Linked DNA regions of Homo sapiens. The protein of the gene in region 3 interacts with the protein of the main gene of each other region in a pairwise test. Each region holds a gene or a part of one and is shown on either strand. Other genes may lie near its edges.

Region 1 (3,651 bases), on a different chromosome or scaffold from region 3:
CTCTTCAGCTAAACTGGTTCCAAGTCCCTATGCGTCCCAAAGCTCCTCAGCTCTATTCCTGAAAAATTTCCTTAATTGAAAGAAAAGGCACAAGGTCCCTTTATCCGATTCCACCTACCCGCCCCCCATCCACAACTCTTCAATAGGAAGAGGACACAAGTTTCCCAGCCAGAGAAATCCACTAAATACCCACCATTCCCGTCCAAAACAAGAAGCTCAAAGCAGATTTCATAACAAGGTAATAGAAAGAACAGTTAATTCCTGTTAACTAATTTTCCATCCCTGCAGGACTGCAAGCCCCATCCTCCTTCCCCCGGCTCCTCCTCTCCTCCCAGCACTGGGGTCTCTGGCTTCAGTCTACTAATGTGGATGCTAAGTAATCACTAATTGACTGTAACGCAGAGTGAAAGGGCATTAAAATCCGAGGCAACTGGGAAGTTAGGACAATGCAAATATTTAGGACTTGAGGCTGTCTACACCTGGCCAGCGGGGTCATCGGGTCACTGTTCAAAATACAAGATGCCCCTGTGGCCCAAGTTTTTGTCTACTCAATGGAAAGAAATTGCTTTGCTGGTTTCCCGGCTCTCCCACCCCCACCCCACCTCTAGGAGCACTCGATTTTTAAAAATGGACCCTGGTATTTGCAGCCCTGTAGGCGGTCTCCGAGACGTCTTGAGGGCTCGCGTTACCCTAATCCTCACAGCATTTAGTCTACATTCTTGCCTTAACCCCCCTTTGTTTTTGGCGTGTCAAGAGGCAGGTGCAGATACACCTAGCTTCGGTCGTCCTTCCTTCAACTTCCTGCTGCTCCCGGTTTTATCCCTTCACGGCTTTTCTAGTAATTCATTTCCTTTTTCATTAGTTTCACCCTTCGGATCTCTTTAAAAGACACGTTTGCCCCACTGTCTAAAAATAATAAGGTCCCATCCTGCACAAAGCAAACCCCCTGAGACACAGGGATGCGCTCGGTCCCAGTCCAGCCGCGGCCTCTCGTGCGGTGAGTGCACCCGGTGGCCCGCGCCACCTCGCCTTCCCCGGCGGCGCACAGTGCCGCCAACTCCCTTCCCTGGTCGATTTTAATTGACATCCTCAGCCGCCTAGGTAGAGACTCTGTCTCTCTGGAGCCTGACACGTTTCCAGCGCTCGTCAAGGTCCACTAAGCTGCGGAACCGAGTGGGGAGCCGAGGCTCGAACACCCGCAGAACGCGCGGGCCGGGCACACCCGCCGGCGGCCTCCCCGCTCCGAAGAGGAGGAGCCCCTTCGAAAATGGGAGCATCGCTTTCCCAGGGTTAAACAGTCACATTAGACTCGAGCCGCCAGGGTTGGGGTTTAATTTTGTCATTCCAAATGCTTGGAACGAAATGGGTCTGGAGAGGAAGAGAGGTTTTCACCCGGCCTCCTCCTAATGGGCGCGCCGTCCGCACTCGCGCCTGCCGCGCCTATCCTTGCTGGAAAAGTCCCTGCCACCACTCTAAAGGGCAGCAAAGGGGTCCCAGGCCTGGCTAATTCCAGCTCAGTCGGACCTCTGGGCTACCTGAGATAATAAGCTCCGAAAACGGGCGCGAACCTCTGGGCGGATGGACTGCAAGGGCCAAGGCGCAGGAACCTCTATTGCAGCGCACCGGGGAGAGAGAGGCGGTCCCTCCCTTGTCCCCTTCTGGGCTACGACCTTTACCCACCGCTGCGGGACGCAGTAAGCGCAAAGCCGGCTACCCGCGAAGGGCCGGCCGCCCTGTCCACATCTACCTCCACCGGCGAGTCCCCCAAAACCCAGAGCACGCCCGGGATTCCCGGGCGAGTGCCCAGGATCGTGAGCCGCCCATGGGTGCGCAGCAAACGCTCATTTAAAGAATTCATCGTCTGTTCCCCGGGCCACCCAGGCCGGCATCTGCCCGCGGGGCGGAGGAGCCCTGCCCCGGTCGTAGCGAGGTCATGTGGGTCGCGCTCCCAGACCCTAGGACGCCACTCCTGCTCAGCCCTGCGTAGCCCCGCCTAGCTCTGGTTTTCCACGAGCCCGGACCTCGGCCAAGAGAGGAAATAAACTTGAGTTAGGTCCTGCTTCTTCTCAGTCCCGACTTTACGACTTCCCGGGACACTGCGGACTGCTCAATGCAGACCTTTGCCCCTCACCTGCTGCACCTGCGTGCTCCGTGTCCGGCTTTAACAGTTAATTCCGCATGCGGAGCGCACTGGGACAGCGGCTTTCCAAGCTTCCCTCCGTGCTAACGGCCCTCTCAGATAACAAGGCCCTGGAAAGGAGGAGGCCGGAGCCCTCTCGCCCCTTGGGAGTCCTCAGCCATCCGCTGTCCCAAGCGGGGCGCTGCCGCGCTTACCCGGGTTTCTCCAAACTCCCTTCTTTGTGGTACACAGCTCTGGCCAGGGGCTGGAACGGGATCCTAGCAGTTAGGACATCGGAACCCCCAACCCATCAGGCCCGAATCGGCCGGCGGGGACAGCTGACCTCATCTGTAAAAATTGTCTCCTGCCTGAGAATATATTCTCGCGACGCAGGGAGGGAGGTCTATGGTGCCTACAGCTGCTATATCGGAATGTTCGGAATATGATAGAATCTCAATCTATTATATATATATATATATATATATATATATATATATATATATATATATATATAATTTGTGTGTGTTGTGTGTGTCTGTTTCTCGCACTAGGAGACAAGGCAGGAATGGAAAGAAGAGCGAACAGCACCAGCGTTTGAGTGAACTCCTGTCTTGGACAGTGAATCCATCTCACCCCCTTAAGAAATGTCCTGCAAGAAGGACAGTCAACAACCCCGGGGACTCGGATCTGCAACTCGACCTGCGCTGGGACATTACCCCACGCACCCCGGAGGAGCCCCAGGAGAGGAAGTCCCAGGGAAAACCTTTACCCCGACCCTACCAAACACAAAATAAAATACCTTTTTCCTACAGCTTCGGGGTTCGCCAGAGCTTGCCGGAAGCATTTTAGGAGACAAGGAGGGGGACAGAGACCCCCAGGCCTGCATTCCAATTACCACCCCCAGCGGAGACCCCGCGGGGCTCCTCCTTCTCCCGTGCGGGCTGCCCTCTCTCCCGCCAGCGATCCGGGCGGCGGGCTTCCGTCGTCCTTTCCCTCGGTGCCTGGGGAGACTACATGGCAGATGGGTCAAAACCGAGGCGGATAAAACGCCCCACCTTCCTATATGCCTCGCTCTTTTCCGCGTCTCCTCAGAGGGCATGGCCGGCCAGCAGGGCCCCGACGCGTGGAGGGACTGCTGAGGTCCGCGGGGAGAGTTTTGGAGGCGGCTCGGAAGGCTCTCGCCGTACCCGTACCCAACACGGCCCCGGGTCAGGCGCTGTGAGGATTCGGATCTCGACGTCCCTACAGCCCGGAGGGAGGTGGCGGGGACGAGCTGTCGGTGCGGGCCGTAGGGACAGCTGTAGGGCTGTCGGAGCGACGAGGCCCGCACCGGGGGCCGCGCGACCAAGGCGCGGTAAAAAACCAGGAGGGCTACGGCGCGAACTGCTAAGTCCGCACGGGAGCCTGCGGGGGCGGGAGGCCGGGACAGAGTGGCGAGGAAGAGGCCAAGTCTGGAGCAAGACCAGAGATGAGAGAGAAATTATTACATCATTTGGAAACGTTTTCCTAAAGGGTATGCCCCTCACCCATCC
Region 2 (3,651 bases), on a different chromosome or scaffold from region 3:
ATACATCATGCCTGCATTTACCCATCGATATGATCATACATACATCATACACATATTCATCCACCCATCTAATACAAACATGCACACGTACAGTTATACATATATACACCATACGCACATATATCATGCATACATTTACCCATCTATATGATCATACGTACATCATACACATTTTCATCCATCCATCTAATACAAACATGCACACATACAATTATACATACATACACCATACACACATACATCATGCCTGCATTTACCCATCTATATGATCATACATACATCATACACATATTCATCCACCCATCTAATACAAACATGCACACATACAATTATACATACATACACCATACGCACATACATCATGCATACGTTTACCCATCTATCTGATCATACATACATACATCATACACATATACATCATACATACATTCACTGGCTCATCTGATCATACATGCAAGTGTACATGCATCATACACGCATACATCATACATGCATTAATGGAGCCATCTGATCATACATATATACATCATACACATTCATCCATCCATCTGATCATACAAACATACAATTATACATACATACATTGTACACACATACATCATACATATATACACATTAATCCATACATACAATCATGCAGACACACATTTCATTTATCCATCTAATTATATATACATGCGTACACTCATATATACACAAATAAACCCATCCAGTCATCCAATCATGCATGTATGCGTACATACATGATACCTACAGGCATTTATCCATCTAATGCAAACATACATACAATTATACATGCATACACCATACACACATGCATCATGCATACATTTATCCAGCTATCTGATCATACATACATCATATACATATTCATCCATCTGATCATACAGACATACAAACATACAATTATAGGCACATACATTGTACACACATACAGCATACATAGCTACACACTAATCTATCTAATCATATGTGCATACAATCACACAAACATACATATTTCATTTATCCTTCCAATCATACACACGTGTGTATGCACATATATGTAACATCATACCTACAGCATACAAACATACACGCATACAATTATACATACATACACCATACACACATACATTATGTAGACATCCATCTGATCATATATACATACCTCACACATATATATGTCATACACACATTCACCAGTCCATCTGATCATACATACATCATACATAGACTTATCCATCTGATGATACATACAATTGTACACACATACATCATACATAGATTCATCCATCTTATACATATAATTATATAAACATAGGTCATACACACATACATCATACATGCATTAATGGATCTATCTAATCATACATACATCATATGCATGTTCATCCATCCATCTGATTATACAAACATACAAATATACAATTATACACCCATACATCATACACACATACATCATGCATACATATACATTAATCCATCCAGTCATACCTATATACAATCATACTAACACACACATTTTATTTATCAGTCCAATCATATATACATGCATACACTCATATATACATAAATACACCCATCCGGCCGGGCGCGGTGGCTCACGCCTGTAATCCCAGCGCTCTGGAAGGCCGAGGCAGTAGGATTGCCTGAGGTCAGGAGTTTGAGACCAGCCTGGCCAACATGGTGAAACCCCATCTCTACTAAAAATACAAAAATTAGCCCGGTGTGGTGGCACACGCCTGTAATCCCAGCTACACAGGAGGCTGAGGCAGGAGAATCACTTGAACCCAGGAGGCGGAGGTTGCAGTGAGCCAAGATCATGCCACTGCACTCCAGCCTGGGCGACAGAGCGAGACTCCATTTCAAATAAATAAATATACCCATCCATCCAATCATGCAAGCATGTATACATACATGTGCACATACACCACGTATACATATATCATGCATGCATACATTCATCATCTATCTAATCATACCTATGTGCGTTCATGCAAACACACATATATACATGTATCCATCCCATCATACACACAGACACTCATATATACACATACATACACTCATCCATGCTTCCAGTCATACATGCACACGCACACCTACAGTCACACATACATACATTCATCTATGCATCCACCCACCCATCCATCCATCCGTCTATTCAGTCAGTTAATAAACATGTATTAACCATTTTCTACTACTCTGAGTGTCCGTCAGTGGAATTGACATTCTAGTTGGGAGAGACAGAGTCTAAATAAACAGACTCTGAGATACCATATGTAAATCATATGCAATTTTAAATGCTGTGTTCAGTGTGGGTCTCACTGATGGATAAGCAAAGACTCGAACAAGGCGATGGGGCCTGCTGTGTGGTTATCTGGAAATAAGCATTCCAGATAGAGGAAACTGAGTGCAAAGGCCCAAGGCAGGAGGGTGCTTGGCAGGCAGGTCAGGGCCAGCGCAGCTGGAGAGGAGCGAGGGGCAATGAGAGCCATGAGGCGGTCAGTGGGATGGTGGGGAGAGGGATTATTGTCCCCTTTATAACTTTGGCTGTCACTCTGTGATCTCTCCCTCCTCCCATCACTCTTTGTTCCGGGCAGGCCTCCTGAGATCACAGGAAGTGTCGGGAGGGGTCCAGGGACCCACCACCCCACCTGAACCCTGGACTCAGGCAGATTGATCTTCAGAGCCACCTCCTCACGGGCATAGACGTCTGGGTACTGGGTCTTGGCAAACAGTGCCTCCAGCTCCTCCAGTTGGCTCCGGGTGAAGGTGGTGCGCTCCCGCCGCTGCTTCCTGGGGGCGCCTGGGGTGGGATGGGAAACAGGACCCTCAGGTCATCCACATGGGCTGGTGTGAGGCCCTGAGGCTGGGTGGGATGCCAAGAATTCCATCCTGGTTGCCATCTGCCTAAACTAAGGATGGAATACACATTCCCTGCCCTTCTACACCTCACTGTGTGCCTGGCACTCTGTGGCTCATGCCTGACCCCAAGGCTTTAGCTCAACAAGGAGGTGTGCGAGTCGTTTTTCCCTCTTCTAAACTTTCTTATGCACTAAGACATAATCAGTTGAAGCATGACATTGCTGACATTCAACCGTTTCTAGCCTATAAAAGTAGCAAGTCTGGGCTGGGTGCGGTGGCTCACGCCTATAATCCCAGCACTTTGGGAGGCTGAGGCAGGCAGATCACAAGGTCAAGAAATTGAGACTATCCTGGCCAACATGGGGAACCCCTGTCTCTACTAAAAATACAAAAAATTAGCCAGGTGTGGTGGTGCATGCCTGTAGTCCCAGCTACTCGGGAGGCTGAGGGAGGAGAATCGCTTGAACCCAGAAGGCAGAGGTTGCAGTGAGCCAAGATTATGCCACTGCACTCCAGCCTGGTAACAGAACAAGGCTCGGTCTTGAAAAAAAAAAAAAAAAAAACAAGAGCTAAAGAATAATGCTACAAATAACTGAGTACTCACTTCTCTTAAAAATAAGGCTTTACAAAAATTGGCCGGGCATGGTGGTGTGCGCCTGTAATCCCAGCTACTTGGGAGGCTGAGGCAGGAGAATCACTTGAACCTGGGAGGCAAAAGTTGCAAAGAGCCAAGATCGCGCCATTGCACTCCAGCCTGGGCAGGAGCGAAACTCCGTCTAAACTGTGTCTCGAAAGAAAAAA
Region 3 (4,387 bases):
AAAACTTTAAAAGTTGTATTACACTTTATTACGTTATTTTTAAAAAGAAGAAGGAGAACAAACCCCAAACCAAAAATCACTTCCGCAACACATTTCTTAAAAGCAGAAATTAGGTTCCTTTTATGTTAGTGCAAAGATAGGTGCCAAGCTGGGGTCTCAGATGGAGTGATTTTAAATCTCAGAAAGAGCTTAGCTGTTTTTGTAAAAAGGAAAGTTGGCAAGTGATTAGTGCCGATGTGGCCCAGCTGCTCTTTTGTACTTCGAAAGAAACAATTAAAATGGCTGGGACATTAAACTTTAAAGAGCTGGGTTGTTCATATTCAGAAGCTAATTTTAAAAAGAGCCTGGTACCTGGGAAAGGAAGGGACATTTTCAGAAAGGACATGGTCTTCTACCTTCTGGACTCTAAATTTTGAAGAATCATTTAAAATAGCTCATAGGTAAACATTACAGATAAAATACCTCCAGGGATAAGAAAGCTCTTTCTTGCTTAGACATGTAGACACTAGATGCAAAATTAATTTTTGTTCACTTTTTAGATGATAAATACTGCCATCTGAGAAATTAAATGTTGGAAAAGACAAATCCAGAACTGGTTTCTTTCTACAAATTGCTGAGCTCCTGTGATGTGCTAGGTCCTGGGGTTAAGGAAAAGAAATGAACAAAGCAAATCCCTGCCCTGGAGGAAGCTCACATTTAAGTGGGGATGACAGATCTGTAAGCAAAGACAGTTCACTGTGGTGAGGTGGTGTGGCTAAAAGCATGGTTAAAAGGGTTAAAAGTGAGGGCTCTGTGCTCAATACAGGCTCAGCCCCAGCCCCACCACTTAGGCAGTGTCTGAGCTTTGGTTTCTACATTTATAAATGGGAATAAAAATGGGAATAAAGATACGATTTCTTCAATTAGATCATGAGGACTTACTACGGTAAGCGAAGTTAAGCGTTTAGTACACTGCCAGCTGTAGAGCAATAGAGCAAGTGCTTCGTCAGACCTAGCTACTATAGTAAGTGTGGTCATCCCTTATGAGATCTATGGGAGCACAGAGGAAGGAGTCTGTCACTCCTGCTTAGACGATGTGTGGCTCCTCAGGAGCTGAGTCTTAAAGGAGGGTAGGAGTGGTTGAGGGCATTCCCTTCACAGTGAGCAGAGGGAACACAGGGTGTCCAGGATAGTCATGGGCATGGTTGTCATATGAGAAATGACAGTGTACGGGGCAGCAGAGGTGACCAGGGGCCCCATTATCACGGGCCTCATAAACCATGCCAGGTGTCTGACCTTCTAGAAATATCAGAAAACTGACGGAGCTTAAAGAGGAAAAGGATGTAAATCTGCATTTCTTTTTTGTTGTTGCAGTTGAAAGATAAGCCATTTATTGACCATCCACTTTTCAAATAAAACACAAATGTGAGCATAACATAAACACACCCAAGACTCACTAGCCCCTGCAAGACAGGAAGCATTCTTGGACAGAGAGTCTGCAAATGAGTTTCCTTATACCTAATGTCTGAACTTCTCACTCATTCTAGGGTTTCATGCTTTGTTATCTCTTACAAAGGAAAGGAAACTGGCTAGAAGATTCATGTACAAGAAGGTCACAACTTCAAAGCTATCTGACACTAATGTTGTGTACAATCTAGTTTGCAACTCTGAGAGACAATATCAAATAAGTACTGTCAAATATTCCTCCCAGTTAACCTTTACTGTCATTGTTCTTTGAAATTGTCTTTGGGATTGGTTATGTTCTCTCGCTGTAGCTTTCGTTTATCTCAGAGCACAAACCCTAAAATCCATGTGCAGTCTCCATGTTCAAGTATAGATGTCTGTTTCAGGACAATCCTGGGTCGCGGTAGTGTTTCCCTCTCTGTAGTGTGTGTTTGGTGTCATGCCCTTGGAAAGGCTGGCCAAATGGCAGCGCAATGCAGGAGGGTGCCACGGTCAACTTTCTCTCTGGCGAACTTGCTTCCCTTTCAATCTGGTCACTGCTCATGGTCGAGGTGGAAATCTTGAGCTCAGTGATGAACTTGGCTTATCTTCAATCTGAAACTGCACTCTTATGTAACCGAATCCATTTCTTCACCAAAAATTAAATAGCGCTTTCAAAAGCTGTCAGGCATATTCTTAGGAAGTGTCCTGAGACGGAGCTGGAGGGTCCTGGCCTTCTGGCTCTGGAGGGAGTGCTGGCACAGCTGCTTCTTTCTGGGCCACCAGGAATTCATGAATTATTTGTTCTATTTGTGGCCTGAAGATGTGGTTTAGTTTTGGATCCACCACCTGAGAACTAATCCTGTCCACTCCAGCTTCTGACCTCCCTGACTGAACCACACTCTGCCTCAGACCATCGTGCAGTTGGTTGTCGTTTGCTGGAGGATTCCATTCCTGCTTGTCCAGATGTGTCGACACAAAATTATCCGCTTTCTGGCTCAGGTTTTGGTAAGCTGGCTTGGTGTCCACGTCAGCCTTGCAGTCCCGGCGGAAGCTGTCAAAAAGGCCCCTGCTCTTGAGCTGCCCCACGATGATAGCGATGAGCTGAGGGTCGCCAGGGGGCAACGAGGCCGGGTTGATGGGGCCGCCGCCCCCGCTGGCCCGGGTCGAGGCCGGGCCCGCACCGCCGCTGCCGCCGCCGCCACCGTCCGCCATGGCTGCGCACCGGGCCCACAAGGAAACCGATTATAGCTTCTTCTCCAGGACAGAAAGCCTAGAATGTGTAGAGGTGGCTAAGGGGGCGGTGAAGGAGGAGGGCCCCAAGGAGGCAGCGGCGGAGGTGACGGTGGTGGTGATGGCGGCGGGGCCGGTGGTTGGGGCGGCGGTGGGGGAGGCCAGCTCCAGACCGCGGAGGTTGTGGAAGACGCGGCAGCAACCGCCTGCTGGATTCCAAGCGCGCTCCAGATGGCGTCACCGTTGACCTTTGCATTGTGAGGCGGGAACCGTAATCTGCATTTCTTAAAAGATCTCTAAGAGGGAGGTGGGAAACAAATGCCAGTGGGCAAGGGCGAAACAGGGAGACAATTTCAGCAACCATTTCAGTGCCCTAAGAAGGAGATGGCGAGGAGTGAATGATCTTCGTGGCCTGGCAGGTGAAGAAGGTAACAGGGATACAAGAGATATTTAGGAGATAGACTCATCCCAGGGATTGGAGAACAACGGGGTGAGGGACGAGGGAAAGGAGAGGGTCAAGGATGACCCCCAGGCTTCTCACTTGGGCAGGTGCATGGAGGTGCCATTTACTAAATGGAGAACAGGTATAGAGGTGAGGATGGGAGACAGAGACATGATCGTGCATTCCATTTTTATTTACTAGTTTAAGATGGGTATGGGTTATTCAGATGCAGACATCTGCCTATGAAGTCCAAAGATACAAGGACTAGGGGCTGGGGAGAGACATCTAACTCACTGAAGGTAGAGACTATAGGTGGCAATTACAATGGAGAACTTAGAAGAGATAGAGGAACACCTGGAGAGCCCATGAGGGGGACTGAGAACAACACTAAAAAGATGGAGGGAAAACTACAAAAGCCTTGGATCATAGACCGCAAAAGGTACATTTCATGAAGGCCATGGGTGAAATGCCACACTATGTTCCACAAGGTGTCCATTGGCTTTGGTAGCCATTGATGAGCCTAGGGCAGATGTGTCAGTCAGAAGGAGGTCATTTCAACAAGAGAACTGTATTGCAACCAAGAGCCACAAAAGGCAACCACATCCAGCGCCATCCAATAGAGAAGTGCAGGTGCACAGAAAGAACCTTCTATCAATATTTCAAAAGAAAAGCAGATCCCTGATTTCACCCCAACACTCACTTCCCTGAATTAAAATGCCCCTGAGATGTAGACACCACATTGTTCTATAAGCCGTAACATAGCTTAAAGGTAGTATATTTCACAAAGAAAGTTTACACAACAGACTCTGTCAATAACCTCACCCCATAGCTTCTGACATACAAGTACAGATGCCTCAGATGGACGTATTCTGAATCTCATCCCACAGGAGACAGTGAACCTACCAAGACTTCACCACAGCAACCCCCTACCTATGCTCCTCACCATCCCCATGATCAGCTCGACAATTCAGTTCTGTATTTTTTTAAATTAATCAATATTTATTGAGGGACTAGTCGATGTGGCCCTGTGCTAAGCTTTATGGAGCTCTCCACGTGCCTGGCCCAGTCTAACACTCAATAAATGTTTGCTGTGGCTGTTGTTTAAGACAGGCAACATGGCCAGCCTTTGAAAAGCTTACAATCTAGTTGGAGAGGGGAGATGTTGACAGAGAAAACCATTGAGGACATACACAAGCTCCATGGGAACTTAGATGCAACATGCACACCTAGCATGGTGCCTGGAACAAAAGAGAGGCACCATTAATATTTGCAGAATAAAGATTGCATAGA

What was found.
Region 1: the proteins of BOD1L2 (region 3) and LHX4 interact in binary tests that used the Homo sapiens proteins (3 or more experiments, as listed by UniProt).
Region 2: the proteins of BOD1L2 (region 3) and CRX interact in binary tests that used the Homo sapiens proteins (3 or more experiments, as listed by UniProt).

The regions. Positions count from the first base shown.
Region 1 is NC_000001.11:180,233,152-180,236,802, reverse strand, and holds part of LHX4 (LIM/homeobox protein Lhx4), read right to left. Parts: intron 1-3,651. UniProt on the Homo sapiens protein: May play a critical role in the development of respiratory control mechanisms and in the normal growth and maturation of the lung. Binds preferentially to methylated DNA.
Region 2 is NC_000019.10:47,835,383-47,839,033, reverse strand, and holds part of CRX (cone-rod homeobox protein), read right to left. Parts: intron 2,792-3,651; coding exon 2,640-2,791; intron 1-2,639. UniProt on the Homo sapiens protein: Transcription factor that binds and transactivates the sequence 5'-TAATC[CA]-3' which is found upstream of several photoreceptor-specific genes, including the opsin genes.
Region 3 is NC_000018.10:57,145,563-57,149,949, reverse strand, and holds the start of BOD1L2 (biorientation of chromosomes in cell division protein 1-like 2), read right to left. Parts: upstream 2,864-4,387; 5' UTR 2,638-2,863; coding exon 2,119-2,637; 3' UTR 1-2,118. UniProt on the Homo sapiens protein: May play a role in proper chromosome biorientation through the detection or correction of syntelic attachments in mitotic spindles.